Linked DNA regions of Homo sapiens: regions 1, 3 and 4 are each linked to region 2. The links come from fine-mapping of genetic effects on plasma protein levels. Region 2 holds a variant in brackets. A gene starts in each other region. All regions are shown on their forward strands.

Region 1 (4,212 bases), not on the chromosome of region 2:
AGGGTCAGACCCAGCCAGGACTCCTCATTTCATCTCACAGACACAATAAAAAAGCATATTTGTCCTGCCTGGGAAGTGACAGGTTCCGTTTCCTGGTGTGCTGTGGGAAAGACGGGAGTGGGAGGCAAGTCTGGGACTACTTTGGGCCTGGGAGCTGGAGGGGATGTCCAGCAGTCTGAGAAGGCTAAGAATGCGCCACTTCCTAAGTGCCTGGCCTCACCACTCTGTGCCTGAGTTTCCTTATCTGTAAAACGGGTATGATGGCAACACCTAGGTTGGAGGGTGGTTATAGGACTGAATGAGTCTGGATAACTGAGTACTTGGCCACATAAGGCTGGGGAATTGCTGGTGGGAGGCGGGGTGTATTACTGCTGCTGCATGACCACAGGGATTGGTGGGAAATCCAGGGTCTGGACAGCCAAGCCAAGGAAGTCAGGAACCTAGAGGGTATGGGGAACGCGATTTAACAATTAGCCAGCATTGGCCGGGCGCAGTGGCTCACACCTGTAATCCCAGCACTTTGGGAGGCCGAGGCAGGCGGATCACGAGGTCAGGAGATCGAGACCATCCTGACTAACACGGTGAAAACCCGTCTCTACTAAAAATACAAAAAATTAGCCGAGCGTGGTGGCGGGTGACTTTAGTCCCAGCTACTCAGTAGGCTGAGGCAGGAGAATGGTGTGAACCCGGGAGGCGGAGCTTGCAGTGAGCCAAGACCGAGATCACACCACTGCACTCCACCCTGGGTGACAAAGCGAGTGAGACTCCGTCTCAAAAAAAAAAAAAAAAAAAAAAAAAAAAAAAAAAAAAAAAACCAGCATTAGCTGGGCACTGTGGCTCACATCTGTAATCCCAGCACCTTGGGAGGCCAAGGCGGGTGGATCACCTGAGGTCAGGAGTTCAAGACCACCCTGGCCAACATGACAAACCCTGTCTCTACTAAAAATACAAAAATTAGCCCAGCGTGGTGGCACGCACCTGTAATCCCAGCTACTCTGGAGGCTGAGGCAGGAGAATCACTTGAACCCAGGAGGCGGAGTTTTCAGCGAGCCGAGAAGGAGCCACTGCACTCCAGCCTGGGCAGCAGAGTGAGACTCCATCTCAAAAAAATAAATAGCTAAATAATTAGCCAGCATTGTTATGAGTTAAAGTCTATTTGCCCGCATGAATAAATAGGTAAATAATTAGCCAGCATTGTTGTGAGTTAAAATCTATTTGCCCGCATGACAGAGTGAGACTCTGTATCAAAAAAATAACTAAATAAAGAATTATCCAGCATTGTTATGAGTTAAAGTCCATTTGCCCCCATGTTATGTGTGAGCAGCCAAGACTTAAACCTCAGGAAAGGTGGGACAGAACCCTTCCCACAGCGTGCCTCCTTGGCCTAGAGATTGAAGTCTTTGTCCCTCACCCTTCCCCAAGCTGACTCAGCCCCTGGAGCAGAGGGCAGACCTGGCTGGGAGTACAAAGGGCAGCTGGGGCACAAGTGGGCAACTGCAGCTGTGGCCTGCAGGGGGCCAGTGGTACACCTGTGCCTGTTTAGCCTCCCCCTCTGGTGGCTGCAGAAGAGCCAGTTTCCTCACACTGTCCATCCAGGGTCACAATTACATCCATTCACAGTGACTTCATCACACCCACCCACCATCTCACACTGTCACATACACAATCATATCCACTGATAGACTGCACACGCAGTGGCACGCTTAAACCGTCACACGTGCTCTTGTCCATGCATTCATTCCCATTCTAGGCACTGTCCGGGCTCGGCACGGCCCCGGGCAGAACCTTGCAGGAAGTGGAGCTCACAGCCTCCTGGAGTTCAGTGTGGGCAGACAGACATTGGCCAATAACTTCAGTACAAGTGGAGCTGAGGCGTCAGGGAGGACCTCCCCGAGGGGCTGAGGCCTGCAGTGGGGAGCCGTTGGAGACTTGCCGAGGAGGGCGAGGGCGCAGGCCCAGGGCTTTGCAGCTCTGCATCTTGAGAGCCTCGGGGCGGCCCCCTTTCCTCCCGCCCTATCCGGGGGCTGAAGGAGGAGGCGCCCTTAGGGGACGGGACCGTCCTGAGCTCCCGGCGCATACCTGGGGGCAGGAGTGGCAGGCGTGTCGTGTGGGGCGGGGCGAGCCTGTCAGAGCAGGGCCAGCCCGGAGCTCGCAACTCGCGGGGCGGCGCTGGCCGCGGCGGCCGCTGCCCGGGGACGGGATCCGGATCTAATCCTCCAGTAATCTCGCTGAGGCCCGAACCAGAGGCGGGCGGGGACATCCGCGCCGACGCGGCCGCTGGCGCCGGGACGGCCCTCACTGACGGTCTTCGGTCTCCGCCCCGACATCCGGCCTCGGCCACGTGGTGGGCGGACCGGGGCGGTCCTGAGCCTGCGACCTCGCAGGCGACCTCGCTGGACCCTAAGTCCAGGCCACAGTCAGGGAAGGGCGCTGAGAGGCGAGCGTGAGCCCAGCGACAGGAGAGTGAGGTGGGGGCCCTGGGGAGGGATAGAGGGACTGGGGCTCCGTGGCTTGAAAGCCGGGCAACTGGGAGGCGTTGGGGTTTTTCTTGTTTGTTTTTTGTTTTTGTTTTTGCCTTTTTTTTTTTTTAGGAGGGCGGGGGGAGTACAAGTCTGGGTTCAAACCTTGCTCAGCTACTCTATGAGCTGTCCTTGAACCTCTCTGAGCCTCTCAGCTTTCTCCTCTGTAAAGTGGGCATTCTGAGCACAAACTTCATGGGGCTCTTTTGGGGATTAAATAAGGAAATGTGCTGGAAGCAGACAGCCCAGCGCCTGAAACAGAATGGGTGCTCCTTAATGGGGGCTCCGAAACACGGTATCCTACCCCTGTGGGAAGTCCGGGAGCCGCCGTGGGGACAGGCTGTGTGCAGGAGCTCACCATTTCCAGGGTCTTGGAGGGGTAGTTAGCCATTCACTTTGCCCCCAGCTCACCACGCGCAGCGCCATGACCAGCAAGGGTCCCGAGGAGGAGCACCCATCGGTGACGCTCTTCCGCCAGTACCTGCGTATCCGCACTGTCCAGCCCAAGCCTGACTATGGTGAGAAGACGGTGGTTCCAGAGCCTGTGACGGGGCCTAAGGGACGGGGACTGTGCTCTAAACCAGCCTCCAACCCCTGTCACCCAGCTGAGCCCCACTCTGCTGTCCCAAATGGCTCCCCAACCCCTCCAGCCATTCCCCAAGTAAATAGACTGAGGCAGCCCCTCCAGGTTAGGGAGGAACCCTTTCCCCAGAGACTCTGCTGCTGACCAAGGTTACTCCTGGCAGCTGGTTAAAGAAAAACTTCACCTCACTCTCCAGGGCAGGAGTGGTGGGGGAAGCCTGAGGCAGCCACAGGGAAAGGAGAGGCCCTCCAGAAGCCCACTGGGGCTGGACAAAGGCCACAGCCCTTAGGGAGTCAAGCTTGGTGGCTAGGGCCTGGGAGGTGGCTCCTGCCTGTTATCCCAGCACTTCAGGAGGTTGAGGCTGGCAGATTGCTTGGGCCCAGGAGTTCAAGACTAGCTTGAGCAACATGGCAAGACTCTGTCTCTACAGAAAAAATACAAAAATTAGTCAGGAATGGTGGCACACCTGTAGTCCCAGCTACTCCAGAGGTTGAGGTGGGAGGATCGCTTGAGCCTGGGAGGTTGAGGCTGCAGTGAGCCGAGATCGCACCACTTCACTCCTGCCTTGGTGACAGAGTGAGACCCTGTCTCAAAAAAAAAAAAAAAAAAAGGAAAAGAAAAAAAAAAAACTTAGTGGCTGGGAATTGTGTACATGGGTCCAAATTCCTCCTCTGTGATTAATCAGCTGAGAGATGGTGGGTGAATCTCTTCATGTCTCTGTGCCATAGTTTCCCATATTTAAGGAAGATAACACCTTCCTCCAACCCTGTGTCCAGACATCCCCCTGGACTTCCAGAAAGGGTCACTGAGTAGCCAAAAATATCTTCTTTCTTGGGGATGGAAATGCAAGCATCTCTGAGGGATATGGAGTGTGTCGGGGAGGCAGCAGCCCATTTCTGGGTATGCTCCACTCTCCGGGCTGCCTGGGCTGGTGGGAAGCTGTGGGTAGGCAGAAGCAGCCCCAAGACACTCTGTGCCTCCAGGAGCTGCTGTGGCTTTCTTTGAGGAGACAGCCCGCCAGCTGGGCCTGGGCTGTCAGAAAGTAGAGGTGAGCCTGGGGCCCTAAGCGGGGAAGGGAGGTGGGCCTGGGCACTTCCTCACCCTGCTCAG
Region 2 (4,000 bases):
GTCCACCAGCTCATCTCCGGCAAAATAGGCATCTCTCTTACCAGAGTGTCTGATGGGGAAAACGTTCTGGTGTCTGACTTTCGGTCCAAAGACGAAGTCGTGGATGTAAGCAGTTTGCTTATCTGGACGTTGTCAAGTTAGAAAAGCTGTTTTGGGATGGGTGTGGTGGCTCATGCCTGTCATCCCGGCACTTTGGGAGGCCGAAGCGGGTGGGTTGCTTGAGCCCAGGAGCTCGAGACCAACATGATGAAACCCAGTCTCTACAAAAATTACAGAAAAATTAGCTAGGCATGGTGTTGTGGGCCCATAGTCCCAGCTACTAGGGAGGCTGAGGCAGGAGAATTGCTTGAGCCTGGGAGGTGGAGGTTGCAGTAAGTCATGATCATGCCACTGTACTCCAGCCCGGGTGACAGTGAGATGCTGTCTGGAAAAAAAAAAAAAAGAAAGACTGTTTTGTTTTGGAAGCAACACAGGCAGTTGTAGGCCCCCTGTGCCAGAGTGACATAAACTCTGTACACCTCCAGTGATTTGGTCCATGTTTGTAAACCCTGAATGTTCCAGGGCAGTTTCTTTTCTTCACTTTTTATCTCTTTTTTTTGGGTGGGGGGGCGGGGTACAGAGTCTTGCTCTGTCTCCCAGGCTGGAGTGCAGTGGCGCAATCTCAACCTCCCGAGGAGCTGGGACTACAGGCACAGGCCATCACACCTTGCTAATGTTTGTACTTTTTGTAGAGACGGGGTTTTGCCCTGTTGCCCAGGCTGGTCCCAAACTCCTGCACCCAAGTAATCTGCCCACCTCTGCCTGGCAGTTACAATTTCAAATAATTCCTCCCTTTCCTTCAACACTTGGCTCATGACCGTCCAGTCCAAGGAACCTGTCCTGCAGGTGTGCCTCTCCCGAGCTTCCTCTATGCATCTTCCATAATGAAGATGCCTTCTCACTGGAAACCCTACAAGGGTGGGAACGTGCCTTATTTGCCTGTATCCTCAGGGTCTAGCAGAGAGAAGATAATTTGTAATACCAAAACACCATTAAATTCAGCTGATGCTTTCATAAGCGCTCCTTGGAGGAAGGACTCCATTTACTTGACAGATCTGTGCAAGACAGCAGCCTGGCGCGTCTAACCTGCAGCCAGTTGCATCCTCTGTTTAACCTTGTTTGCGGAAGCTTTCTCTAAACAGCCAGCACTTGTCTGTTCCCACATGGGTCCGTTCTCCCAGTGAATCACCGTGGTGCCTGCTGACTGCTCTGTAGCACAGTGCTTCGCAAAGTGTGATCCTGGGACCAGCAGAGCAGCAGCTCCTTTGAGCTTATTGGAATGGCAGACCCTCAGGTCCCACCTCTGACCTGCTGCATGGGAATTCTGGGGAGGGACGCAGAATCTCTGGTTCCACAGGCTCTCCGGTGATGCTAATGAATACCGGCATTTGAACAGCACCGATCTAGCCCCTTTCAGTCCATGAGCCAACAACCCTTGGTCCTGTCTGTGGTGACCCAGTGTGACTCTCATGGGGAGCAAGGAGAGGAAGTTGAAGTTCACTGACAGGGTTGTTAAGGGGATTATGCAATAGATGAGACCCATGGGCCTGAAGTCCGAGGGTGTATGTTAGTTCCCCGTTCTTTTGACCCATGGATTAACCTACTCTGTGCAAAGGGCATTTTCAAGTTTGTTGCCCTGCTCACTTGGAGAAAGCTTATGAAGGATCAGGAAAATTAAAAGGGTGCTCTCGCCTATAACTTCTCTCTCCTTTGCTTTCACAGGCCTTGGTATGTTCCTGCTTCATCCCCTTCTACAGTGGCCTTATCCCTCCTTCCTTCAGAGGCGTGGTAAGTCGGCTTTCTCTGCTAGCGCTGAGTCCTGGGGGCCTCTGAAGTGTGCTCACACATCTCCTGCCTGCAGGGCACTGGTGTC[G/A]GGCACCTCAGGGTCTGTCCCATGGTGGAGCCCCATGCCTCACTGCCTTTCAGACAGAGTAGCCACAGCTGGCCCTATTTCCAGGCTACCCGGGCAGCAAAACTTACTGCATGTGTAATTAATTATTTGGCTATCTGTAAGGTAAACTGGCTGGTTCACTTAATCTGCACCTTAAGCATCAGATAGCTTCTCAGTGATCTAGTTAAACTATATGATGTTGGCCAGGCGCGGTGGCTCATGTCTGTAATCCCAGCACTTTGGGAGCCTGAAGCAGGCAGATCACTTGAGGTCAGGAGTTCGAGACCAGCCTGGCCAACAGTGTGAAACTCTGTCTCTCCTAAAAATACAAAAATTAGCTGGGCATGGTGGTGTGCACCTGTAATCCCAGCTGCTCGGGAGGCTGAGGCAGGAGAATTGCTTGAACTTGGGAGGCGGAAGTTGCAGTGAGCCAAGATCGCACCACTGCACTCCATCCTGGGTGACAGAGCGAGACTCTATCTCAAAAAGAAAAAAAAAAAAAAGGTAAATAAAGTATATGACACTGAAGAATCTGTTACCCCTGGAAGGTGGAGCTTTACTCTTAGGGGGAACTATAACAGTCATATATATATATTTTTTTCTTTTCTTTTTTTTTTTTTTTGAGATGGAGTCTGGCTCTGTCGCCCAGGCTGGAGTGCAGTGGTGCAATCTCGGCTCACTGCAACCTCCACCTCACAGGTTCAGGCAATTCTCCTGCCTCAACCTCCCGAGTAGCTGGGATTACAGGTGCCTGCCGTCACGCCAAGCTAATTTTTGTATTTTTAGTAGAGACAGGGTTTCATCATATTGGCCAGGCTGGTCTCCAACTCCTGACCTCAGGTGATCCGCCCGCCTTGGCCTCCCAAAGTGCTGAGATTACAGGCGTGAGCCATGGTGCCCGGCCAACAATCACATGTGTTGTAAACAACAACAAAAATCTGTCAGCCTGGTCTAACCTAGATTTGTGCTTTGTTTTGTTTTGCCACTTTGTGATGCACAGGAGGAAGTTTAGGCTGTAAAATACTAGCCTTTTAGGGTAATTTTTGAACTCACAAGAGCAGCAGCGGAACCTTTGATGCAATCCTGTATGTAGCACCAGCAGAGCCACGTGGCAGAGGGACTCGCATTAGGAGCCTCCCATTACAGACTACGTGCTCCTGTGCGTTATCTTATAGGGTCCCCACAACCAAGGGGAGATGTGATTATTCATCCTGTGTGGCTGTGGGGAACTTGAGAGTCATACTTGCCCAAAGAGCACGGCCAGCGAGCTTGCACCCAGGTCACTCTCTGCTCCTCTGTCAGAACAGGGCATGTCTTGGTTCACTGCAGGGCGGCTCTTCTCATTCTCTGTAGTTTGGGGTCCAGGATAGTGGTCCACGGAGCCACTGGAGTGCCCAGCTACTGAGTGACCAAAGCATATTTTGGATTTCCGACATTGCCACAGCATGGTTGGGCATCAGCAGGACCCCAACCCCTTGTTATGCTGGTGGCTTTATGTGGTTATTTGATCTTCCCCAGAACTCAGCAGGAGTGCACCCAGCAGCACCGTAGTGATGCTCTCTGGCTCCCCAGTGCACGGTTCTGGCTTTCCTTCCTGGTCGAGAGTTTCAAGCCCTCTGGGTCCTACTCTGTCCTTTTCAGCCCATAGCTTTGTTCAAAAGCTGCTGGCAGTGTTCAGATTTGGCTGAGTTCAGTGAATATGTGCATTGGCTGATTTCTGAGCCATGCCAGGGGGATGGAGAAGCCGAAGCAGGAGTGTTTGTTCTGCAGGCTCTGGAGTAGGCATTGGGTCTGTGCCGGCTCACTTGCTAGTCTTGCATCCTTCCCCAACCCCCTCTGGGGATGTCTGGCCACATCAGAAGACAGTTTGGGTTGTCAGAACTGGGGGAGTACCAGGCCGAGGTGGGTGGATCATGAGGTCAGGAGATCGAGACCATCCTGGCTAACACAGTGAAACCTCATCTCTACTAAACATACGAAAAAAATTAGCTGGGCGTGGTGGCGGGCGCCTGTAGTCCCAGCTACTCGGGAGGCTGAGGCAGGAGAATGGTGTGAACCCGGGGGGCGGAG
Region 3 (4,212 bases), not on the chromosome of region 2:
GACGTGGGTGACCAAAGGGCAGCAGGTCTTTGAGCAATAGGCTGGGAGGCCTCAAGGGTGGCACCCTGCCCAGGAGGTGGGGTCCAGGCTCGTCTGCCGATAGGCCCTCAGGTCTTGGGTTTTAACACTCCACACACACACAAGGGAAATCACAAAAGCAATGTAATTCATATGACGGGGACAGAGAAGCACTCTTCCCCCACCCTGCCCTCAAAGCCTTACGGACCTTCCCTCCATGAGATTATTACATCAGTGAGGGCGTAAAAGCAAAATAAATCCCAGATGCAAATATGTTACTCCACAACCTCTCAGGAAGAGTACCCATGACTCTCCCCCCTTCCTTTTCCTATTATGTACTTCATCATATGCACCCCACGTCCCTACCGTAACTTTCACGTGTATTGAAGAGGAAACAGGCCTAGAGAGGGGAAACGACTTGTCTGCTGTTCTTTCCCGCCCACCCCTAGCCAGTGATGGCGCAGTGTTGTCTGTGTGTCAGCATTGCTGGGGCTGGACGAAGGAGCTACATTTAAAATAAGTGTCCATCCCATTCTTAGCCACACTGCAGCTGACCGCCGTTGGCACTACCTCTAGTAGGTCCTCAGTCATGCTCCCAGGCAGCCTCTGGTCCTGAGCCGCCAGGGCTAGGTTTCTCTGGTTTTCCGTCTGCTTTTCTGGCTGGTTGGGAAGCTCAGGCCAAAGTGGAAGGAACTTGGCCAAAGGCAGCTGGCAAACCTAGTGCCCCATCCTATTTACCTAATGTGCGAAGTGCCCTCAAGGCAGCCCAAATTGGCACAATTCAGGCCATGAGTGGAACCTCAGAGAAAGCAAGGAAGCAAGGGTCAGTTTCATCCTAGGAGGATCCAGGTCTAGGAGCTTAACAGATCCCAGAACCTAGGCTTCTAGAGTAGCACCACCCCAGGGCAGAAATAGAGTGCTGAATTGAAAAGATACCCTTAGGGGTGGGGAGGGAATGTGAGGGAGGTTGATTTAGCTTTTATGAGGCAGCCTGCAGACTGGACACCATGTGTTGATTGGCAGGAGTTTTGAGACCCGCTTTCACCATTTACCAGCCAGGTGGCTGTACCTCTCTTGGCAGAACCTCCACCTCCACAGATCATCATGAGGTGCCAATGGGACACTTTAGGAAACTCCACTGCTATAAAGCAAATGTCATCTGCATTACAAAAAAAAAACTTCCTAAGGCAAGCAGGCTTGTGATGGGCCTGGTAGCATTTGGGGTAGCTGAAGCATCGCAGTGCTTTCCTAAGTCCGTCTTTTTTCCCTGCTGTTTTCCCTCCTGAAAACGTGAGCTCTCTCTGGACTGATGTAGCTTGGCCCCTCTCTTCCCCTCGGCTCTGGATGACTATAGGGATTGAATGGCAGCAGCGATTTGCATCATCTGCCCAGTAGGTAGGTCTCTACTCCAGAGCTGGCCTTCTCCCCGTGGCTGACCGCCTGGTCCGTGTATCTAGACAACCAGAAGTCAGCCAAAGCATCAGAGCCCACTGTTTACTTCCTTGGCTCTTAAAGGGGTGGGTGAGTCCAGGTGAGCTCTTAGGAGGCTTCCCTTTCTCGGTAGAGCCTTCTGGAACCCCCCAGGTCGCACAGCCTGCGGCTGAACTGACAAACCTTCCAGGTGCCGGCTCTGGAGACAGAGAGGGGGACGCTGCCCCGTTTGCCTCCTCTGGCGAGGTGTGGGGAGTGGTTACCGATTTCCCAAGCCTGCATCTCTGGGACCTCAGCGCCCCTCACAAACAGCCCCACTCATCCTCCCTCCCCCAAGTCCCTCTCCTATCAAAAGGCCCTCCCAGTCTTGCCTGCTCCGAAGGCCTGTGGACCAGAAATGGTCTGATGAAGCTCGCGAGCTTACAGCAGAGCAAGGGCCCCGCCCCCGCCCCCGCCCCGGGGGTGGGTGGGGGAAGCTCACGGGAGGAGGGCTGCTCCAGCGCCACCAAGCCCCCGTGGCCTGGCACGGGCCTCAAGCCGGCGCGGGGAGTGGCTCTGGGGCCAGCATACCGGCGCAGAGCGTGAGTCCCAGGCAGACCCCGTACCCAGAGTGCCAGCGGGAAGGGGCAGCGGACAGGCACGCACACGAGCGCGCAAACTCAGCCTCCCTCTCGCTCCCACCCCAGTATAAAGCAGAATCGGGCCACCAAGGGGACGAGATCCGTGGACTCCTCCACGACTGTCTTCCCCGGCCCAGGAAGGTCGTAGGCCCCGCCCCCGGAAGGGTCCCGGAACAAGCACTGGCCGGGGTCAGGGCAGGCCTGGCCTCCCAACTGGGTGGGATTCGAACCCGCCACCGCCCCTCTCAGGGCTTCAGCTTCCCCTCCCCGCCGCCAGCGACAGAGAGCCGGGCAGAGACCCCACTTTCGGACCCCGGCGGCTCCGCAGGGGACTCGAAAAGACTTTCCCCCGCCCCTTCCCGCTCCCACCTCGCCCGCGGCTGCCCCGGCCCCGCTGCCCCGATCGCGGCCGCGCACCCCTGGACTCACCATGGCGCGGGCGGCAGCAGGTGGCCAGCGGAGAGGGCAGGCGGCGGCCGGGCGCGCAGGCTGCCGTCCCGGGGCGGGGCCGCGCTCGGGCCGCCCTCCGGTAATGATTAACGTCCCCAGCCAGGGACGCGCTCGGCCTGCTTGCTTCCAGCACTTTCCTCGCTGCTCAGAGCCATCCTCCGTGCTTGTTTCAGGGAGCTAGGGTGAAGCATGAGGGCTCCAAATGCCCGCTTCTGGGTTGGAATCCCACCCCGCCGCTTACAGCTGGGTGGCCCTGGGCGCCAGAATACCTATTTTTTTCTTTATAAAAATCTCTTATTTGGATATAATTGACATGCAATAAATTGCACATATTCAACGTGTACAATTTGATAAATTTTAATGTTTCCCTCGTGAGACCATCACCGAGATCAACATTATGAACATATCATCATCCCTGCAAGTTTTCCCTTGCCCTTTGGTAACCCCTTCCTCCCGAAACCACCTGGCCAGGCAAGCACTGATGTACTTTAGGTCACTATAAATTAGTTTGCATTTTCTAGAATTTTATGTAAATGGACCATAGAGTATATACTAGGCAGGATAACTGTTTTGGGGTTCAGCCATGTTGTTGCCTATATCAATGGTTTCTTCCTTTTATGGCTAAGTAAAATTTATTTTATAGTATTGCATTGTACAGATAGACTACAATTTGTTTAGCGATTCACTATTGGACATTTGCGTTGTTTACCTTTTGGCTATTACAAATAAAGCTGCTGCGAATATGGTGCACAAATCTTCGAAAGTACGTATGTTTTAATTTTCCTTGAGTAAACACTTAGGAATGGAATGCCTGGGTCATGTGGTAGGTGGACTTTTATAACTTATTAGGAAACTGCCATACTGTTTTGCAAAATGGTTGTATCATTTTATATTCCTAGCAGCAGTGTATGAAGGTTGCAGTTCTCTGTCCTCACCAACACTTGATATAGTCAGCCTTTTAAATTTTAATTGGTGTGTAGCAGTATCTCATTGTGGTTTTGAGTTTCCTTGATTAGTAATTGTATTGAATGTCTTTTCATGTACTTATTTGCTAAGGATAAGTTTTTTTTATTGAATAGCATGTTTGAATTTCCTGCCCATTAAAAAAGAAATTGGGTTGTCTTCTTATCGAGTTTTGAGGGTGTTTTATTCTGGATATAAGGACATGATCAGGCAGTGATTTGCAAATATTTTCTTTGCATTATCTTATGGTGCCTTTCAAAGAGCAAACGTTCTTAATTTTGATGAAATCCAATATATCAAATGTTTCTTTTATGGATTTCTATTTTGATGTTGTACACATAGAAATCTTGGCCTAACCCAAGATCAAAAGTTTTCTCCTATGTTTTATAGCTTTTGGTTTTACATTTAGTCTGTGATCCACTTTGAGTAAATATTTTTATATGCTTCAAGTTATAGATCCAGATGCACTTTTGCACATGGCGACTCAGTTATTCCTTTCTCCACTGAGTTGTCTTTGCACCTTTGTAAAATATCAATTGACTGTATACATGTGGGTTTATTTCTGAGCCCTTTCTTCTGTTCCATTGATCTGTTTGTCTGTCATGACAGAACACTACCTTGTCTTGATTATTATAGCTTTATAATAAGTCTTAGAGTCAGATTAGAAAAGTCCTCTCACATTTCACATTTTTCTATTAACTTTTATTCTTGTGCTCCACTTTTATTCCCC
Region 4 (4,207 bases), not on the chromosome of region 2:
TCAGTTGGCCCCTACTGGGAAGTGTCTCCCAGTTAGGCTACATGGGGGCCAGGGACCCACTTGAGGAGGCAGTCTGTCCATTCTCAGAGCTCAAACACTGTACTGGGAGAGCCACTGCTCTCTTCAGAGCTGTCAGACAGGGACGTTTAAGTCTGCAGAAGTTTCTGCTGTCTTTTGTTCACCTATGCCCTGCCCCCAGAGGTGAGGTCTACAGAGGCAGCAGACCTTGCAGAGCTGCGGTGGGCTCTGCCCAGTTCAACCTTCCCGGCTGCTTTGTTTACCTACTCAAGCCTCAGCAATGGCGGACGCCCCTCCCCTGCCAGGCTGCTGCCTCAGACTGCTGTGCTAGTAGTGAGCAAGGCTCTGTGGGCGTGGGACCCACTGAGCCAGGCACAGGATTTAATCTCCTGGTGTGCCATTTGCTAAGACCGTTGGAAAAGTGCAGTATTTGGGTGAGAGTGTCCTGATTTTCCAGGTACAGTCTGTCACAGCTTTCCTTGGCTAGGAAAGGGAAATCCCCCAACCGCTTGCGCTTCCCGGGTGAGGCAATGCCCCTCCCTGCTTCGGCTCACCCTCCATGGGCTGCAGCCACTGTCCAACCAGTCCCAATGAGATGAACCAGGTACCTCAGTTGGAAATGCAGAAATCACCGTCTTCTGCATCGATCACACTGGGAGCTGCAGACCGGAGCTGTTCCTATTTGGCCATCTTGGAACGGAATCTGGATGATTTACTTTTGGCTACCAATTTGGAAGCCTCATGCCAGCAGGCTACTCTAGATCTCTTGAACTTTCTAGGTAATCAAGCGGGCAAGGTGTCTAAACTGAAAGCCCAGCTCTGCCTACAACAAGTCAAATATCTAGGCCTAATCTTAGCCAGAGGAACCAGGGCCCTCAGCAAGGAACAAATACAGCCTATACTGGCACCGGTCCCTCAAGGCGTAGCACCAACCAGATTGATAAACTCACTTATCTGACCTTGTGGCCCTCGCCCAGAAACTGACTCAGTCCAAGAAGACAGCTTAGATCCCCTATGATTTCATCTCTGACCCAAACAATCAGCACTCCTGACTCACTGGCCTTTCCCCACCCATCAAACTATCCTTAAAAACTCTGAGTCCCCGTATGCTCGAATGCTTGGGGAGCCGGATTTGAGCAATAATGAAATTCCAGTCTCCTGCATAGCTGGTTCTGCATGAACTCTTTCCCTATTGCAGTTCCCCTGTCTTGATAAATTAGTTTTGTCTAGGCAGCAGGCAAGGTGAATCCATTGGGCGGTTACATATTGGGGAGGGGGGACTGTAAGGGAATGAAATCCTGAGCATTATCCTCAAAGGAGGGAGGGGCCTTATAGACTTAGGCCTATCTAGAAGCGCCTCTCTCCTCAGAGAGTAAAACCTCACTGTTTCTCAGAGGGCTGAGAGGCTTGAAGGAAGAGTTTGGGCAGAAACTCTGCTTTGAATAGAAGCAGCAGATCCAGTTGAGAGAAAGAGGTTCACAAATTCCATTTCATGGCTTTTTTTTTTTTAAAGACAGATTTTCACTCTTGTTGCCCAGGCTGGTGTTGAATGGCATGATCTCAGCTCACTGCAACCTCTGCTTCCCAGGTTCAAGCTATTCTCCTGTCTCAGCCTCCCGAGTAGCTGAGATTAAGGCGCATGCCACCATGCCCGGCTAATTTTTGTATTTTTAGTAGAGACGGGGTTTTCACCATATTGGTCAGGCTGGTCTCGAACTCCTGACCTCAGGTGATCCACCTGCCTCGGCTTCCCAAAGTGCTGGGATTACAGGCAAGAGCCACTGCGCCCGGCCTCATGTCTTTTTTATACTTAAGCACCAGGCCCATGTAATGATGCACGAATTCATTTACTCCTACTCGTGCCAGGCCCTTTCCTGGGGGCTGGAGACAAAGGGCCGACGTGGACGCTGCGTCATGGTAGCACCTGTCTCGCAAAGTGCACACCGTGCTCCACCCACAGCCTCAGCATTCTCGTTGCTAGGAATATGGACCCTCAGGCAGCACCTCAGACCTAGACCTACTGTATCAGAATCTCTGTGCTGGTCCTGAGAATGTGCATTCTCAACAGCGCCTCACATTCCCCACCCCAATTCTTCTGCAGCTAACGTTTGAGAGCGCTGGTCTGGTGCCTACTGCCTCTGCAGGCGGTTTTCAAGGCAGCCGTGTGTGCTTGCATGTGAGGCGGCAAAAACAGCGCGCTGCAGGGCCGGCGCGGTGGCTCACGCCTGTAATCCCAGCACTTTGGGAGGCGGAGGCGGGTGGATCACGAGGTCAGGATATCGAGACCATCCTGGCTAACACGGTGAAACCCCGTCTCTACTAAACAAAAATACGTGGTGGTGGGCGCCTGTAGTCCCAGCTATTCGGGAGGCTGAGGCAGGAGAATGGCTTGAACCCGGGAGGCAGAGCTTGCAGTGAGCCGGGATCGCACCACTGTACTCCAGCCTCGGCGACAAACAAACAAACAAACAAAAAAAACAGCGCGCTGCAGATGGAGCCAGCACCCGGGCTTCTCGCTCCCAGCCCCCTCCCGAAGCCCCGCCCCGCCTCCGGGTCTGGAGGAGGCTGGGAAGCCCCGCCCCTCCACGCTAGCGCCGCCCAGGCTGGCACAAAGGAGGAAGCCTAGTCCCGCCCCTGCGTGCGGCGCTTCTCCCAGGCCCCACCTTCCATCCAGTGCCCTGGACCCTCGGCTGGGTAGCGCCACCAGAGCGACCAAACGTCCCGCGCCTTCCAGGCCGCACTCCAGAGCCAAAAGAGCTCCATGGCGGCGGCGGCCAAGCCCAACAACCTTTCCCTGGTGGTGCACGGACCGGGGGACTTGCGCCTGGTAAGCTGGGAAGGAGGGTGGGAAGCATACCGATCCTGCCTCACTCTCCTCTGAGCCCAGCCATAGTCCTGGCTTCCCACTTCCAGCCTGGCGCCGGCCCCGCACCTTAAGCGCCCTGGCTGCCCAGATCCCAGCTGGTTCCCCTCGGGGTGTGGGGGCAGCAGGTAGTGGCTGTTGCGAAGGGCAGGGATCTAGTCGTGTGCCTCCCGGAACCTAGCCCCGTGGCTGGCACGTGGCCGGTGCCCAGGACGGTTGCAAACTGTTTGAATGAAGCTTTCTCTCTCCTTTGCCAGCTGCAGATTCATAGTCCAGCCTCTTGTCATTGACCTTTCCAAAGGAAATGCTAAGGCTGTCTGAATTATCGGGGCAGACCGTGCAGAGCAGAGAAAGGGGGGCCAGAGGACACTTAGAAACAGCAGAACTTGTATTTAACTCCCTTGCTTGGGACTGATAAACCTCCCTTGCAGGATTATGATGATCACAAGAGTACTCAGCACTTAGTACGTGCTCAGGAAGTGCCAGCTCCTTCTCCTTTCCTTCCAGTCTAGGCCTCCATCTCCAGAACCCCTGCTGTTCCCCTTGCCTGTGCCAGACTTGTGGATCTTGATAGCTCCCTTGTCTGTAAGGATCCTTCTCTCCCTAAGACCCTGTCTGGTTCACTTTCCAGCAGTTTTTCTTTCCAATCCCGTGCCTCTGTCCCTTTAGGAGCATTCTGTATGTGTGTCCTCTGCCTTAGACCCTGCCTTTTGCTCCCTGGCTTGTGGCACCAAAGTTTAGGAAGTGGCTGAGTCAGCAGCCTAGTCATGCCAAGCCTCCCTTGACAAAGTCCCTCTCAGATGGGCCTGGGATGGCAGTGGGTATGTGGGATGAGTGCCAGCCATCTCTGCTGCTCCCCTGTACCTCTTTTCCCTCAAAGTACATGCGTCAGTATGTAAACTGCAGTAATTCAGAAGCTTATCCAGGTTAGCAGTTCTTGACTATTTAAGAATCTGTGGTGTCCCCTCCACAGAATGCAAATAGACTGAGTTTGGCAACAATTTCAGACTGCTCAAGGACTCCCTTTAAGCCGCTCTAAGCCCCTCTATAGAACCCTTGTCCCAGCTGACTCTCCATCTCCTCAGTTGAAGAAAGTACCATACCCAAGGTGATAGGTTTTGTTAGTTAACAGAGCCACGACAAGGACTCAGATGTTCAGACTCCCCATTCTAGTGCTCATTCCACTCTTTGGAGCCTCCACCCAAGGTCCTGAATTAAAGTGAGGCTGTTAGTGTTTACTGTTGCAAATGCCAGATGGTATTATGAGTAAGGGAAAGTGGTCCAGCTCTACCCAGCTTGCAGAGTGATTTCCAACTCAGTACTTCA

Direction of the effects. Alleles are on the strand shown, and positions count from the first base shown. The strength of an association depends on the size of the effect and on how common the allele is.
As copies of G replace A in region 2, the plasma level of the protein whose gene starts at base 2,414 in region 1 goes down (weak association).
In carriers of allele G in region 2, the plasma level of the protein whose gene starts at base 2,533 in region 3 tends to be lower than with A alone (weak association).
For the plasma level of the protein whose gene starts at base 2,691 in region 4, A is the high allele of the variant in region 2 and G is the other (weak association).

The links. A credible set is the group of variants that fine-mapping cannot tell apart. PIP is the posterior inclusion probability: the model's chance that the variant is causal. Protein levels are from antibody-based Olink assays in UK Biobank. Linkage for the fine-mapping came from a reference panel and not from the study's own genotypes, which makes the PIPs less certain.
Region 1: it holds the start of ACY1, and the variant in region 2 is the best candidate, but not a certain one, in a credible set for the plasma level of the ACY1 protein (UK Biobank, PIP 0.53).
Region 3: it holds the start of PCBD1, and the variant in region 2 is the best candidate, but not a certain one, in a credible set for the plasma level of the PCBD1 protein (UK Biobank, PIP 0.59).
Region 4: SORD starts here. The variant in region 2 is the best candidate, but not a certain one, in a credible set for the plasma level of the SORD protein (UK Biobank, PIP 0.64).

What each region holds. Positions count from the first base shown.
Region 1 is chr3:51,981,122-51,985,333 of GRCh38, forward strand. ACY1 (aminoacylase 1) reads left to right here and starts at 2,414. Exons shown (of 15, transcript NM_000666.3): 1 at 2,414-2,468; 2 at 2,926-3,037; 3 at 4,086-4,150. The coding sequence starts at 2,944. It overlaps ABHD14A-ACY1 (ABHD14A-ACY1 readthrough), which reads left to right. Exons shown (of 17, transcript NM_001316331.2): 4 at 2,926-3,037; 5 at 4,086-4,150. ABHD14A (abhydrolase domain containing 14A) reads left to right here. Exons shown (of 5, transcript NM_015407.5): 5 at 1-75. RefSeq lists an enhancer at 44-545 and a silencer at 1,999-2,448.
Region 2 is chr22:43,927,063-43,931,062 of GRCh38, forward strand. It overlaps PNPLA3 (patatin like domain 3, 1-acylglycerol-3-phosphate O-acyltransferase), which reads left to right. Exons shown (of 9, transcript NM_025225.3): 2 at 1-105; 3 at 1,762-1,827. Among named protein-coding and RNA genes, the nearest start is that of PNPLA3, 5.3 kb to the left of the region's middle. The variant G/A (reference allele first, on the strand shown) is at 1,913.
Region 3 is chr10:70,886,033-70,890,244 of GRCh38, forward strand. It overlaps PCBD1 (pterin-4 alpha-carbinolamine dehydratase 1), which reads right to left and starts at 2,533. Exons shown (of 4, transcript NM_000281.4): 1 at 2,499-2,533. The coding sequence starts at 2,501. RefSeq lists silencers at 1,790-2,069, 2,400-2,649.
Region 4 is chr15:45,020,505-45,024,711 of GRCh38, forward strand. It overlaps SORD (sorbitol dehydrogenase), which reads left to right and starts at 2,691. Exons shown (of 9, transcript NM_003104.6): 1 at 2,691-2,845. The coding sequence starts at 2,780. RefSeq lists a silencer at 2,471-2,640 and an enhancer at 3,410-4,060.